2 separate regions of the Homo sapiens genome follow, and region 1 is linked to region 2. The links come from fine-mapping of genetic effects on gene expression. A gene starts in region 2. The other region holds a variant in brackets. All regions are shown on one strand. Distances are from middle to middle. Region 1 overlaps ROR1 (receptor tyrosine kinase like orphan receptor 1). Region 2 holds the start of ROR1 (receptor tyrosine kinase like orphan receptor 1).

Region 1 (5,373 bases), 23 kb after region 2:
GAACTGCCGCTAATGCAGTTAGGTAAAGGCAAGGGCCCTGGTTGCTGGGGAACCAGGAAGCACAGGGTGAGCTTCCCATCTGCTCTCAGTGAAGGACGTCCTCACTGTCACCGCTTCCTAGGGCCAAAGGGGCCTCTGACAAAGCTAATGTGACCAAAGTCAAAATATGGGCTCCGAGAGTCAGCCAAACCCATTCAACTAACTGTGATCTTAGGCAAACCTCAAAGCTTCGGTTTCCCCATCTGTAAAAATTGGGGTACTAATCATATCTACCTCATTACCTTTTGGTGAGGGCAAAAATCAGACAATGCTGACGGTCACTGGCATGTCCTGAGTGTGCATGGTGAGTCGTCCATCAACAAGAGCTCAGATGACCATGTTCCAGGTGAGGAACCCGAGGCCCACCCTGGCCTTGATCAGAAATAACCACCCTGAATTCCTCAGTGCCTGAGTCTGGCATCGAAACTGGCTTCCCCGGCCTCCAGCACTAGGCCACGAAGGAACCAGCTTCTTTCTCTCACTGGTGGTGGCCTGCTGTGCCCTGCTGGCTGGGTCCAGAGAGACAGAATGAGGAGGAGCTCAGGACCTGTTATCAGAGGCCAGAGGGCGGCTCTCCAGCTAGACTGCTAGCAGGACCGCAGTGATGGAATCACCTGAAGGTCTTCTTCAATTTCCTCATCTGTAAAATGCAGTGGCTTGACTGCCCCTTCCAGCCCTAAATTTGTTTTAGGAAGCCCACTGGAGGAAGCAGCGAGCAAGAAGGGAGCAGCGGAGGGAACATATCAATATGATGTAAGAATAATAGCTCCCATTTTGTAAGTCCTGACTGTATGCCCGGGACTGTGCTGGGATACACAGGGTCCAGAACATTATCCATTTTCTAGGGGCTCACGCACTCATGAAACTGGTGATAGTGGTGGGGTGCAGTCGTTTGGGGTGGGTGGAGAGACATAATAACCGGAGGAATTAGAATTTGTTTTGGTACATGCCTTAAGAGAGATCTGCACAGTGACTTGTGGACCCCAGACGAGGCTGCCTGTGTGTGCAGAGCCTCGAATGCCATGCAGTGAAGGGAGGTTGGAACCCTGCATCCAGGGAAGCGGACTTTGTGGTTGGGAGGGCAGGTTCAGGAAGGTTCTGGTGGGAGGGTTGGCAGCCAGGCTGGTGCTCCAGAGGGCTGATGGATTACATTCTTCGAGTTAGAAATCATCAGAAGCCCCGCTGAGAGGGCTCTTGTGGCTTTGGAGCTATGCCGGAGGTTCCCTCTTGCAAGGGGAAAAATTGGCTGTGCCTTTAAGTGTTATCCTCCTGTCCTCTTGGTTTCCTAGTGTGGCAAGATTCAAATCCAAAGTATTTGCATTGAATTTGTTAATTTCAACCAGTGGTAGAATAGAATAAGAAGTCTAAACAGCCATTTTTTCTTCCCTTGGAGGGTATGTTTTCTGACCTTTTAAGGAAAATCCTGTCGAAACCTTGAAAACTTGTGACTCTAGGTGCTGGATCTGACACTGGGTCAGGGACATATTGTGGACCTGCCGTGTGCTTGGGCCTGAGCTGAGCAAGCTCATGGAGTAAGCTCTCTTGAACTCTTAAGATCGTGAAAATACAGTTCCAAGCCACAGAAGCCCTTTGGAGTGATTCTGAATGGTGGGAGGGCAGAGAGGCTTTGAATGCTGTTTGAACACTTAGACTGCTAAGTACTACTCTTCAAACACTTCACGTGCCTTAGATGGTCTAGTGCAAAGGATATGCAGGAACATAAAATATCTTGCCGCTACTGGAATAGCCTTATCTTCTGCCTCAATATTGATTTAGAACAATAGCTTGTTTTGAACTTTCTCCCCATAAATTAAATTTTAATTTAGAAAATGCCATTAGGGGAAACTTAGTATGTAAGTACAGAAGGTTTTGGAGATGGGGGTGGCTGCTCAGAAGGGAGTCTTTAGAGATGACAAAGGTAAAAGCATTACTCTAATCAGAACATTTCATTAAAACCCCCATCAGACTAATCTGTCGACACATAGTATTTTGAGTATCTTTTGTTGGCAACATTCTGTGCTGGAAACTGGGAGAGAGAGAGTTTAGCTCTTGTCCTGTATGTATGTGCATATTTATATGTGTGTAGTATTGTCTTATATGGGAAAGGACGATGGGATTTTTTTTTTTCAGAAACATTTTTCCCTTCTACAAAGGATGACATCAGGGCATAGCAGAAAGAGCTCTGGACTGAAAGTCAATAAACTTGAGTTTATCTCCTAGCCCTACCTCTAACTAGCTGTGTGGCCCCACACAAAACACTTGCCTTCTCTGATCCTCAGGTTCTCATCTGCAAAGCAATAAGGTTGGACCAAGCCCTGTGTAGTGGCAGTGTCAACATCACCTGGGAGCTTGTTAGAAATGCAGAGTCTCAGGCTCCTCTCCAGAACTACTGGATCAGAAGCTGCATTTTAACATGATCCCAGGTGATTTATATGCAAATTAAAGAACCATGGCTTTAAAGAACCATTCCTGCTCTAGTAATGTATTATTTTGTGTTTTTTTCCAAATGCATATTAAAATATAGTTACGAAGAATTTATCCAAGACTGCATCAAACATTCTACATAAAATGGGTGTATCATCTCTTACCCTTTAAAAGTTTGTACTTTGTGAGAAAAAAGGTTTAAAGGCAGAAACAGGCACAAGCAGTCGTACATTCAGTTCCAGTGCTAGATATACATATTTCTTCCTTTTGCCTCCTTTGTGTTTTGGGCCTTGACAGTGTGGTAAGGGCAGCGGTGGAGAGAGGAGAGGAGGAGTTGCAGAGTCGAGGTGACTGAAGGTGGAAATGGCAATGCACCGAGCCCTGAGCTGGCAGGTGGTCCAGAGAGCAGCGGGCCCCAGCCCAGCTCCTCAGTATCATTG[C/T]AAGGGTTTTGAGAATCCAACATCATCGGTGATGAGAAAAATGTTTCACATTTTTCAAGCATATATGAAAGTGCTTTGATGAATTGAATAACAATTCATAGTGATTTTTTGATGTTCTATATTTTTTCTAATTAATTGATTCTAGATGTTAAACCTATTAGATGGGAAGAGGACTCTAGTTCATTTTTGCATTAAAAGGGTTCTTTCTTACTTGAAGCTGGTGGGAACTATTGGAAGAGGGCGTAATAATTAATAATGATGACAATAACTAACACATGCCGAGAACTTTCTAGGTGCCAGGCACTGTGCCTTGCAAAAAAGGACTTTGGGCATCTGTTAATTAATTTATGGATAAGGAAACCAAGGCTCAGAGTGGTGAAGTGACTTGCTCCCAGTCATCCTATGAGTAATTGGTGGATCCAGGCTAGAAACCCAGTGTCCTGGCTGTGGGGCCAGCTTTTTTTCTGCTGTGCCCGATTTTGTGGTTTGTCTCTCTGGTGCTCTGGAGTAGCATGTGTGGGAAGGCTGAACGGAGAGTCATGAATTTTCCCGAGTTCCTCCTCTGGGAATCACAGACTATCAGAGTCCGGAGGACTTTCAAAAGCATGCAGGCCACAAACTCCATTTACAGGTGAACACATCCAGCCCAGCAAGGGAAGGGAACTTGCTCAAGGTCAAACAATTAGTAGGGTTTATTTGTTCTGGTCTTCCTCTACCTGAAATTCAGCTCTATTTGAACAAGTGAAACAAGCCCTTCTATGAAAGCAAATGAACACGGTTTTGAATATTGTATCTCAGGTTGCTGTGAGGGCTATATATATCTTTAAAAAGGATTCAGCATAGCCACTGGTAGTTGATAAACACTCAAATGATGTTTGTTATGGTTATCATTTTTACTAAGCTTCACATATTAAATTTAGGGACACCTTTGTTGTTGTTGTTTTAAAGCAGGACTGATTGTAGTCTTGTCTTTTTTTTTTTTTTTCCATGTTCTCTATCTTCAGGATAACCTTTGAGAGGACAGACGACCAAATTCCTTTTCACTAAATACTGCACCACATAATCATTGGAAGCCATATACTGGCAAGGGAGAAAGTTGCCCTTTTGAGAGGCTGCATTCTTCATCTTATGAGCCCATGCCATGCCAGCCAGCTCTCATTGAGCTGAGAAGCTATCTTTTTGGCAGTAGGTCTCCTGATCATGAAGATTTGAATGGAACAGACATTTTCTGAGACTCAGTCAGGCATTTTTCCACTCTGCATACAATTGTTACCAATCTAGAGAAGTAGGAACTGGTTTAGAATCAGAGCCAGCTTCATAGGTATGCAACCTGTGCAACTGCGCAGACCATCCACATTGGAGCCCCCTGGTTGATTTGACGCTCTGCAGGGAAATTGGAATTCTTGATATTATTTTCAATAAGACGCCCCACTTTTTTATTTTGCACTGGGCCCATCAACTTAAGTAGGTACTCTTGGTTAGAATAATCTAGAACAGGACCAAGAGCCTGTGAGGAACAAGTCAGTGGGGGTTGCAGTTTTTGGGGGAGGAGGAGGAGGCCACAGACCTGACTCCTTGTGATGGGTCCTAGTATTATACATGGGCTTGAGCCAGGCAGCATGCAGTCCGCTGCCATAGAGAGGAGGTAAGCAGGGTGGTTTGTTGTCTTGTCCACCCATCACTTTGCCTTGTAAGTATAGACAAGACACTAACTGCTCTGCATGTCTCCTTTGTATCCCCAGCCCTGATCACACATAGTACCCAGCACATAGTAATCACTTAACACATTGTGGCTATTTACTTTATTGCTGCTCTAAAGTAGTCCAGAGATGAACCATTATTCCAGGGGCTTTACATGTATTATCTCTAGTTTTTCTGACAGCCTTTCAAGGTAGACATGATCGTCCCTTCTTTACAGATGAGGCAACTGAGACTCAGAAACGTTAAGCAAAAGTATCTCTGGTTCATCTCTGGACTACTTTGAAAAAATAGATGAAGTGTTGTGTGAGATGCATTATAAACTTTCCTATTTTTGGTGTCAGCACCATACTTTATATCTTGGCTATTCAGGGGCTTAACGTCAATTTCCCTGCTAGTAACCTCTTTCTTTTATTGATTCAACAGCTGGATTAACTTCCCCAGCATCATCATTTATTAGCCACGTAATCTTAAATACTTTTGCTTAATGTTTCTGAGTCTCATTTGCCTCATCTGTAAAGAAGAGATGATCATGTCTACCTTAAAAGGCTGCTAGGAAAACTAGAGATAATACATGTAAAGCCCCTGGAATAATAGTGACTGGCACGTAGTAGGTGTTCAAGTCACTTTTCTTATTATAAAGTTGACATACAAACAGCTTTCATTGTGTCATTTCCCTTCCTCAAAAATATCTTCAATGGCTCCCCATTGCCATGGCCATGGTGGATCAAAGCTCATCATGATCTAGCCATAGCCTACATTGTCTGACTTC
Region 2 (5,373 bases):
TTACCTCTTTTACTTTTTTAAACAGGAAAAGCCTTTTCTAACACCCCCCCACCCCAGCATTTTTTTTTTTTTTTTGAGATGGAGTCTTGCTCTGTTGCCCAGGCTAGAGTGCAGTGACGCTATATCCACTCACTGCAACCTCTGCCTCTCAGGCTCAAGTAATTCTCATGCCTCAGCCTCCCGAGTAGCAGGGATTACAGGTGTGTCACCACGTCTGGCTAATATTTTGTATTTTTTTGTAGAGATGGAGTTTCACCATGTTGGCCAGGACGGTCTCGAACTCCTGATCTCAAGCAATTCACCCACCTTGGCCTCCCAAAGTGTTGGGATTACAGGCATGAGCAACCGTGCCAGGCCATTGCTAACCTTTTCTTTGGAAACTTGTGTGCTATAGCTAAACTGAAGGAATCTGGGATGATTTGATGATGGTCCTTACCCAGGTCTGGACTGGTAGGTCTAGGTCCTAGTTTTGGCTCTGGCCAGCTTTGGGCAAGGCGGTTTCACTCTCCTAAGTCCCACATGTCTCCTGTATAAAATGTTGAGGGGGGTGTACTAGTTAATTTCCAAAGCCCTTTCCAGGTCTCACATTCCTTATGTCTATGATTCTGTGATTAAGTTCCTGGAAGTTTAAGTACTGATAAAAGTGCCATTAAGTTCTGTATACTCAGCACTAGCAGCTGTCTGTTACCTAAGATACCTGGGCCTAGGAGTTATAGGGTGGGGGCTGGGGGCAGGGTGGGTGGATGAGAAAGGCTCCTTGTCTGACAACTGTGTGTATTGACTGTAGACAACAGAGGACTGCCCAGCACTGTGCAGTGTAACTGAGTATCCTCTGATTTCTGGGCTGTGATATACTAAGACTGACCATCAAAGACTGTTTCCCAACAAGAGAACCTTGTGCAGTAAGTTCCTCAGGCAAGAAGCGAGATAATTGGGACAGGATTGAATAGATCTCAGGCAGAGAAACTTGGGGGACAGATCAATGTAGGTAATGAACTGGTTGACCCAAGGCCTCTCTGTCTATCATTTTTTGACCTCAGGTCAGAGCGATAGAAAGGGGGAAAACTACCGACACAGCTCCTGCCATGAAGTCCTGGAGAAGAATAAGTGACTGTTTGTCCCGCATGGGTTAGTCATTCACCTGCCTGAAGGCAAAGGGCTGGGAGTCTGGAGTCCATGACCTGCTGGGACATACTTTGGGCTGCATTTTTTCCCCCTTCTAATGTCTCAGCTCTCAGGGATCTGCTTTTCCTGGTGCCAAGGAGTATGGATGAAATTTTGTCCCTCCTCCATGCACCCCTATAAAACAAATATGATGAGAAATTAATATTTTCCAAATGGTGACCTAACCTTTGTTCATTAATTGAGCTCCTATTGCATTCCAGGTACTGTTAGAGGCCAGCAAGATACCTAGATGATTGAGACAGAGTCCTCGCCCTCCATGAAGTGACTGTTCATTTTAAAACCCTAAAGCTGGGTTCTTAGAGGCTACTGCAACAGCAACAACTCCCGAGTGAGTGCTTATCATGTGCCAGGCTCTGGTTACAGGCTTTAACTCTCTCAGTGGAAACAGCCTGAGTGCTGGCTTGGCTACCCCATGTCTGTGAGACTGTGGGCAAGTCATTTACTTTCCCTTTGAGTTTCAATTTCTAAAACTGTAATATGGGGATAATATATGTAAAACAGCTAAGAAGTATATACTTTTAATGACTCTTTTTAGTGTCAATGGAGGATTTGTGAGCAAATGCATATAAAACACAAGGCAAACAGGAGGTATTTAGTAAGTGGCCACGTGATTATTGAGAGACTATGGGCTTCTTCCTGTTCCTCCAGAGCAAGACTGACAGGTGTCCTATTACCCTTGCATCTTCAGAGCCTAGAGCACAGCCCTGAAAACAGCAGGCGCTCACCACTTTTTATGATCAAAGGCAGTCTCTACAGGGAAAGTCAAATCATTATGGGTATTTATGAATTACAAAATCCATAAAGTTAAACCAGGAGAAATGGACAAAAACACACTCATTGTAGAGGTCTTTAATGATCCCTTGGCTCATGGCAGAGCAGCTAGACAAAAAACAAACAAACAAACAAACATGCAAAGATTCAGAAGGCCTGAAAAAATAATGAATACAAAGAAGATAAATCGATACAGTATTCTATCTTCACATTCGGAAGACAAAAACACCTTTCAAAAAACCATGGGACATTGGCAAAAATAACCACAGATAATCCTCAATAAATCTTGCCAGGAGGCAGTACAGATGACATTGAATTCAGTGAGACTACAAATTAAAGACAAAAAGGCGAAGTATAAATTACTTGTGTAAGAACTCTCTCAACTCTTGGGTCCAAGAAGAAAGCAAAAGGGAAATTGTATGATAGCAATAAATGTGCCATTACCCAGAGTCACACAGCTAACAGTGACACAGCTGAGGCTGCTAGAACCTGGGTCTACTGTCGTCCAGCCACGAACTGGCTTGAGATCCCGGATAAGTCTCTCTGAGCCTCGGTTTCCCCTTCTGTCAAGTAGCCTCGAAGGTCCCCGGCGCTCGGTTCGGTGGCGAGTTTGAGGAGTGTGGGGGAGGGGAGGGGAGGGAGCGTGCCCGAGACGCGGGAGCCGCGACCGCTTTCTGCGAAGTCGGGGAGGGTGCGGGCGTTGAGAGGCTGCAGCAGAGGGCGCTGGGTCGCCAGCCTGGGCCGCGTCTCCCATTGGTCGGGGCTGGGGCGCTGGGCTGGAGAGTTGGTGGAAAGTGACAAGTTGAGCGAGAGAGGGAGCGTGGAGAGCTGGAGCAGCCGCCACCGCCGCCGCCGAGGGAGCCCCGGGACGGCAGCCCCTGGGCGCAGGGTGCGCTGTTCTCGGAGTCCGACCCAGGGCGACTCACGCCCACTGGTGCGACCCGGACAGCCTGGGACTGACCCGCCGGCCCAGGCGAGGCTGCAGCCAGAGGGCTGGGAAGGGATCGCGCTCGCGGCATCCAGAGGCGGCCAGGCGGAGGCGAGGGAGCAGGTTAGAGGGACAAAGAGCTTTGCAGACGTCCCCGGCGTCCTGCGAGCGCCAGCGGCCGGGACGAGGCGGCCGGGAGCCCGGGAAGAGCCCGTGGATGTTCTGCGCGCGGCCTGGGAGCCGCCGCCGCCGCCGCCTCAGCGAGAGGAGGAATGCACCGGCCGCGCCGCCGCGGGACGCGCCCGCCGCTCCTGGCGCTGCTGGCCGCGCTGCTGCTGGCCGCACGCGGGGCTGCTGCCCAAGGTAAGAGGCGCCCGCCGGCCCCCGCCCGCCCAGACCCCCTGACCCGTGGCCACCCTTCCGCCGTCCAGCCGGGCGCGGGACACGCAGGAAGCGCCGCGCTGGCTCCGGGGCGCGTCCGGCCACCCGCCACGGGGCTCGCCGGCGCCGCCAGGCCAGGGTTTGCCCCGGAGCCCCGCCAGGCCAGGGTTTGCCCCGGAGCCCCGCGGCGGGCCGGGGCGCGCCCAGGGACTCGTTCCTCGGTGCGCAGCAGCGATTGTCAGCGCTGACAGGAAGCGTGGAGGGGTTTGAGGGTCCTGGGGGTGATCGGGGCACTTCTGTGCAGGGCGTCCCCCCTTGTCTCCCTGGACCTCTAGCGCGCCCCAGCCGGTGTTCAGGCAAGTCTATCCTGCCCCCAAGTTGCGAGCCGGCCCGGAAGGCGCGGTCCAGGAGGGAGTTTGGATTTTCAGTGGTGCTCGCCAGAGCCCAGGCGGCTCGCGGATCGACGCAAACAAAAGCCCTGTCCTCCTGGGGCTCCGGCGGCCTCGCATCGCCACCGCCCCCGGCCCTCCGGCCCTCCCGAGAGTCATCATAGAGGCCAAAACTTGTGCGCCGCTGCAGCCGCTGCCACTTTGTGCAAAATGTGCTGTCAGAGGCGGCCTGCGGCTCCAAAGTGCTTTGGGTGTGCACGCGCGCGCGCGCGCGTGTGTGTGTGCGTGTTACAAACAAGAGGGGGAAAAGCCATCTAATGCATATTTGATTTTGGTAATCTCTAAAGACAATCGCAACAGTTAGAGAAAGACTTCACCGCAAGCCGGAGCGTCTTAGTTCGCTGCGGGAAGCTGGGGTCCTTGCTGCGTCTGAGCCGGTACACAATGAGAGGGAAGAGCCCGGCTGAGCCTGTGGAGACAACCGATTCATTCTTTGGAGGTTGGAGGGGGAAAGTTGATTAAAGTCTCCGGGGTCTCGGGCCTCACTTTTAACATGCATCCCTTGAGGGGGTGAGGAGCCTTTGGATTCTGCCCTCCCCCACTCCCAGCCCTAAACCTGAGCGGATAAATAGATCTCTGCTCTTTTATCATGCATCTTTCATTTTTAAGTTAGCACTGTGTTTAGGAAAAGAAAAAGTTCTGCGCTACTTAGCAGTTGAGAGGAAAAAGATGTATTCACTACATAGACTACGAATGCAGAATTAGTTTTTACTAAAAGTTAGCTGACTTTCTTGGTAGAAAACACACTCTGGAAGGAAGTTGTGTGAAATTTTGATTTCTTAGAGATGGTTTTTGGAAGCTAGAGTAGCATTTTCTGAGGATGATTTCTGAAACGGATCCTATAATGTGGTCGTGCTAATCTGAAAGCTCCTGGGGGTAAATAGAGCTCCTAATTGTAATTAAGATGTGCATCAGCAGGGAGTGCACCTTCCTGATGAAAAATCCTAATGAAATGTAAACAGCTTGGTCACATAGATGTTTTGCTTGGTGATGCCAAACATCTGGCCTTGCGCCACAACACCTGGGTGAAAAGTAAAAATGGGCCATGCTGCCTAAGTAATGTAAACATCCTTCTCAAGTTGGGTTGCCCAGCAAATTGAGGTGGAGATAAGCAGGGTGATTTTAACTAAGGTGGGACTCCTGGCTTGGGGCTTTGGTTAATTCAGTTATTTCCCCTGTGGACTCCTTTACTTTGTACTTCACCTTTCAACAATAGTTGCTTTTAGATCATAGCCCCTTGTGGGGGTGGGGGTCACTTACCTTTAAATACATGTCCCTGCATTGATTTTGCTCACTGTAAACACCCTTCTTATCAGCAGCCACCCCAATTCTGTCTCCTTTAACTGTTTACAGCCTTTTAGAGTTGTTTAAAAAAGGTATTGCCTATTCCATTGTAGCAGGAGGAGCCACAGACAAAACTCCTCAGACACCCAGTGAGCAATTCCTGTCCCTTTTAAGGGCTCACAACTCTAAGGGGGTCCACGTGAGAGGGTCATGATGGGTACATGACTGGGGGCTGCATGCACTGGTAATCAGAACGAAACAGAACAGGATAGGGATTTTTACACTGTCTTTCCATACAATGTCTGGAATCTATAGATAACATAACCAGTTATGTCAGGGGTCGATCTTTAAGTACCAGGCTTAGGTCAGGCAGGC

What was found. PIP is the estimated chance that this variant, and not a neighbour inherited with it, causes the effect.
Region 1: its variant is the best candidate, but not a certain one, in a credible set for the expression of ROR1 in cerebellar hemisphere (GTEx, PIP 0.81).

Annotation. Positions count from the first base shown.
Region 1 is chr1:63,793,985-63,799,357 of GRCh38, forward strand. All of the region lies in intron 1 of ROR1 (receptor tyrosine kinase like orphan receptor 1), which reads left to right. Among named protein-coding and RNA genes, the nearest start is that of ROR1, 23 kb to the left of the region's middle. RefSeq lists an enhancer at 800-1,459. The variant C/T (reference allele first, on the strand shown) is at 2,904.
Region 2 is chr1:63,771,262-63,776,634 of GRCh38, forward strand. ROR1 (receptor tyrosine kinase like orphan receptor 1) reads left to right here and starts at 2,756. Exons shown (of 9, transcript NM_005012.4): 1 at 2,756-3,247. The coding sequence starts at 3,157. RefSeq lists silencers at 2,823-2,872, 3,657-3,951 and an enhancer at 3,817-4,380.